Linked DNA regions of Homo sapiens: region 2 is linked to region 1. Evidence: fine-mapped expression QTL. Tissue or cell type: lung. Region 1 holds a variant in brackets; the other region holds the start of a gene. All regions are shown on one strand. Distances are between the middles of the regions.

Region 1 (2,685 bases):
AACTCCCACTTATGAGTGAGAACATGAGATGTTTGGTTTTCTGTTCCTGTGTAAGACTTAAGCAATTTTCTCAGTGTCATTTCTCCATCTCCACTGTGGCCTAAATTGTGCAGAACCTGCTGCGAGTCTAAATATGAGTTCACAGATGTGATAGGCAGAATAACAGTTCCCTAAAGATTTCCACGTCCTCATCTCTGGAACCTGTGAATAAATCATTGCACATGGCAAACGAGAATGAATAAAGGTTGCAGATAAAATTGATTGATAATCATGTGACCTTAACATGGAGGAATTGTCCTAAGTTGTCCAGGTGTGTCCAGCATCCTTAACAGTAGGACAGGAAGGCAGGGGAGGAAGGACCAGGGAGATGGCAGCCTGAGACAGAATCAGTAGCTAAGGAACACAGGCATCCTCTAGTAGCTGAAAAAGGCAAGGAAACAGAGTTTGCCAGATCTTCCAGGAGTACAGCCCTGCTGACACCTTGATTTTAGCCTCGTAAGGCCCATTTCAGACACCTGGCCTTCAGAACTGTAAGATTTGTGTTGTTTTAAGTCACTAAGTTTGCAGCAATCTCTTACAGCAGCAACCGAAAACTAATGCAAGAGAGTTCTTGATTTACATGTATGCATGCTTGCAGGTATACACATATACACACACACCCCTAAGGGAGAACCCACCAAGAACTAGAAAGTTGTTTGCTGGCAAAAGCCTTCTAACATATGGTTTAGTAAGAAAATGTCCCGACGTTATGAAACCATCACTATCACAGGCCAACATAAAGAAACAAAAATTTGCAACAAATACAGCAAAGGCTTTTTCCCCCATAAGACCTCATATAAATTAATGAAAGCAAGATCAAGTTAATAAATGAGCAAAAAACCTCTGAGGTAATTCACAAAATAAAAAACATAAATGGCTAATAAAATATGAAAATACATCAGATGAAAAAGAACTATTGCAAAAATAAATAAATGAAGAGATGCCATTTTGTTTATTTTCTTGGCATGTATCTTTAAGTGGAACTCTCCTATGGTATGGAAAAGCAGGCATTGTCAGTCACTGCTGTGATAGGATAGATGATACAAACTTTCCAAAAACCAATAATGTGTAAAAAATAGTCATAAAAATATTCAATGGCACTTCTGAAATAATAATTTTACCTCTGGGAATCAGATCATCAAAAATTCAGGAAAAGCATTAATATTTTTCACAATATTATTTATAACTTGAAAACAACTTTCAATAATAGAACATTAATACATAGCAGTATATTTAAATAATACAAATTTATGTAGTCATTAATAATTAAGCTTATGAAGAGTATTAACTTGGGTCATAAGAGTATAAGTGATATATAGCAACTGCAAGAGAGAAAGATTGGAGAGAAATCTATTGTAAAGTTATTAGTGATGGGATTAGGGACCATTTCTTTCTTGTGTATGTAACTGGTTTACTGAATGGGTTGGTAGAATACAGTTGAAAGGCAATTTTGTTTGTTCTCTCACTGTCCCTTCAAGTACACATTACGGCTTTGTTCAGTCTCACCCTTTGGATCATATTTCAAGCAGAATTTATAGCTCTTTTAGCT[C/T]CTCAGAGATATTAAATATCTAGTCCAGGTTACTGCAAATTCTCATCCACTTAAAAACTCTCCCGCTCAGCTTGGGCCTGATTTCAACTTGCAGATTTGCAGAGAGGAAGGAACACAACACTGCTTCCTCCTCTTCTCACCCCACTTCTCTCACTGTTCCTCTGCGTTATCGTGGGGATGAAGTAGAAGGAGAAATGATGGGAGAAAAGGAGGAAACAAGGTGTTAGCATGACGGGTTCCATTGTAATCTGGCAGGGATACTCTCTGAGTGTGACAGCTCCCACACGCTCATGCTTCTTCTTGTGGGGTGCTTTTAGGGGTTCTTCAGAATCCCACCCCACCCCCCTTTAGGATCCCTACCTGTTTCTCGGATGATCAGCCTCCCTGGTTTGCCACTTTGCACCCCTACTTGGCTTCTATAGCCAAAGTACCACCATCCTTCTTCTGAGGTCACCTGCCCTACCAGGAAGTCCTCTGGGATGGCTCCAACTCCAGAACAGCACAGGAAGATCTCTCCAGAGGCCTTACCCCCAGGCTAAGGGCACACACACACATCCTGCCCTGCCAATTCCACCCAGTCCTGTCTCCACACACTGTAACCAAAAGCCCCTCTAGACACAGCCTCTTGCCTTCTGACTCTTCCAAGTGTGAGTTGGGTGCCAAGCCCCATGCTTCCCAAAATGTAAGAAATGTTAAGCTCCCCAAGTGCTTTCGCAGCACCCCCTCACCTGGCTTGAGGTGAGAGGAGGTGCCCGCTGGGTGGGAGGAACCATCAGCACCCTGGCAGATTTCTCTGTAAGTCCTTCTCCTAAGACCTCACCCTAAACTTTTCCCTAACCTCTCACCCTCTCAGGGCTTCTTGGCCTTTGTCCAGACAGTCCAGAGATGGATGACAAGCTCAGGGTCCTAATTCACATGGGCAGTCAAAAGCCCCAGATATCTTGTTCTCTGCATTGGAAACTTTAGCCTTTGACACCAGGACTATCAGAAAAAGTTTCTTTTCCCGGTATTATTTTATAATGGGGTTAAAGGGTAGAAACAAACGTTAACAAAGACAAGAAGATAAACTATAGCAGCTATCAAGTATCTATTTTTCA
Region 2 (2,685 bases), 120 kb after region 1:
GGCATTCATCAGGTATTCAGATTAACATGTCAAACGCCAAAATTTGTTCAGTAAAACTTTTTCTCCTTACTGGTAGGTAAGATCATCTTCACTAAGGAATAACAAAGTTTGGCTAGGGAACGAAGAACTAGGAGTGTCATAGGAAATGGAGTGGTACAGGGTACATGGGGTGAGGTACCACAAAGGAGACATGGGGCATCATGGGAGCACAAGGGTACCAGAAAGAGAAGTACATCAGAGTGAGTTCCACCAACATCTCCCCTTCCCCTGGGCCCACGCATATTCACTTTTCCCATCCCTGGGAAAAGAGCTCAAGCTGTTCTCCCTGTCCCTCAAAATATGACCAAAATTCCACCAATAATTTAAGGCCATCTCACAACTTTTGTGGCTTGTCATCTTTCAATCCTTTGCACTTCCCAGAGCAAGATTGTGTACATAGTCGGTACTCAGTTAACGATGTTGTGCTGATCTCAGTGACCAAAAGCAAAGTCCCTTTTTTAAATATTTGACGCAGGGCTACCCCTGATTCTAGGAAAGGGGAAGAATCCCCTCTGCTTTTTTTTCTCTTCTCTGGACACACAATATGCAACCTGTTACATTAATTACAGCTTGAGTTAATTCGTGGAGAATCAAATCACCATGTTAAACAGCTATGAAATAAGTTCCAAATATTAGTAAGCAACCCATTTGAAAACTGGGCACTACCTATATGAAAAAACATTCATCTACTTTCTGTTTAGTTACAGAATACAGTGATAATATTCATAGAAAAAAATAGTATGAAAGGCATAATCCTACAGCCAAAATAAAACTAATCTTAATGTCCACACACAAATTTCTTTGGGCAAATTTTAACCCCAGGATGATTTCTCCTAGGTAGCTTTCCTTGGGCCTGTCTCAAATGTGTGTTTTGGTAACACAGACTGATTTTACTACCTCTTTAAAACACAAATATGTTGGAAACGAAAAATTGTGGGCTGCATTTTAACACCAAATAGAACTCACATTAGGATATCAGCCACTGTTGTCCTCTGCTACTGAACATGACAAAATCCAAGTTATACCTTAATTTCTTGATTTTCTATTACAATGCACTGGTATTTTAAATACGCCATCAATACATTTTGATGAATGCAATGCATGTACAGAATTTGTAGATGTAAATGAGTAAAACTTCCCAACTATGTGCGAAAAGGAAATGTTTTATTTTAGTAGAAATTCCTAGCTGTGTACAAAAAAAGAAAATCCGCAGGATTCTTCATGGTGCACCCTCCTCCCTCCCACCTTTAAGAGTCATATGAGTCTAAAGGAATGAACGAGGTACCTCAACCAGGTACATTTCAGTACGACCTAAATGGTGCCCAGCCCGGGTTCCTCCTTGCACCAAAAGCGAAGCACATCTGGGGGTTTTTCCCGGCGGGACGCGCCAGCTGGAGCGCGGCGGCGGGAGGCGCCCAGCGCCAACACCCAGCTCCTCCCCGTCTGCTGCGGCCCCGCACAGCCTCCTTACCGATGATGGGCTTCTTGGCGGTGTCGCCGTGGGGTCTAGACAGCTCGAGGCTCGCCGCCCCGCAGAGTAGCAGGCCCAGCACGCACAGCAGGCAGCCCGGACTGGCCATGGCGCTCGCCGCCTCCCGCCGCCTTTCAAAAGCTCTGCGGGCGGGCGGGGGCTGCGGCAGGGACACCTCGCGGCAGCGCACTCGCGTGAGACTCGGGTGGGCGGTGCTCCGCAGCGTGGGCCTATGGGAAATGCAGTCCCGGCGCGCGCTAGGCGGCCGTGGGGCGGCGGTGGGAGGCTCTGGGAGTGCAGCCGGCGCTGCGCGCCCGCCCCATTGCTCTGTCCCCGGTCCGCGACCGCGACCGCGACCCCGACCCCCACGGGCCGCCTAAGCGGAGACTCTGGAAACGCCTGGGGCGGGTACCGGGTGGTCTCCGCGTCCTTCCCTTTCAACTGTTACGTCGATGTGGACTTCAGTCACCCGTACAAAGCTGGGCTGGCCAACCCAGGTCCTCGAGAGGGGAGGTTGGGTGTCCCCGGCCGAGTTTGGTAACCAGGCAGCGGGGAGGCTGGCAGGGGATTCTAGAAGGCGCCTGAGAACTGCGCGCCAACCGCACCGCCCCCTTGAAGGTCGGGGCCCTATCTCCGGGAATGGTGACAACGTTCGCTGTACGGACAGCCTGTGCCCCTGAATGTGAATGTCCACACTTGCTATTTGGGGGGTCGCGGCATCTGTAGGAAGTGAAGACGGGACGGCGATAGGAACACACGCACAGGCGCATCACTAGGGTCAGAACTGGGCCAACTCCGGGCGTCTACTTTGAAGCGGGCACGCCCAGGCCACGCCTGCAAACGGCGTCAGCTTCCTCTGATCAACCGCGGTCAGCGCCATCCACCGACCACCACTAAGCCTATCCACCGGGGCAGAAAAGATGACTGGTTCCTATTCGTTAAAACTGTTGATTGTTCCTAAATACATGGATATATAGCTTGTACTCAGTGAAAGTTTCCATCTATAAGGGCCAACTGAAATTCAGCATAAAACAAGAATATTTGAAAACCTGCTACATCAATGCTCAGTATTAAGGGTGAAAACGTAAATTGGACAGTCTTTTTCACAAGAGGTTTAAATTCAGTAAGGAAAAAAGGCAGAAAGCGTGACTCGTAGAGACAACAGGAACAATTTT

The links. PIP is the estimated chance that this variant, and not a neighbour inherited with it, causes the effect.
Region 2: it holds the start of GGH, and the variant in region 1 is fine-mapped to the expression of GGH in lung (TOPMed, PIP above 0.99).

What each region holds. Positions count from the first base shown.
Region 1 is chr8:62,915,017-62,917,701 of GRCh38, forward strand. All of the region lies in intron 4 of NKAIN3 (sodium/potassium transporting ATPase interacting 3), which reads left to right. Among named protein-coding and RNA genes, the nearest start is that of GGH, 120 kb to the right of the region's middle. The variant C/T (reference allele first, on the strand shown) is at 1,589.
Region 2 is chr8:63,037,150-63,039,834 of GRCh38, forward strand. It overlaps GGH (gamma-glutamyl hydrolase), which reads right to left and starts at 1,657. Exons shown (of 9, transcript NM_003878.3): 1 at 1,511-1,657. The coding sequence starts at 1,619. RefSeq lists a silencer at 1,691-2,050.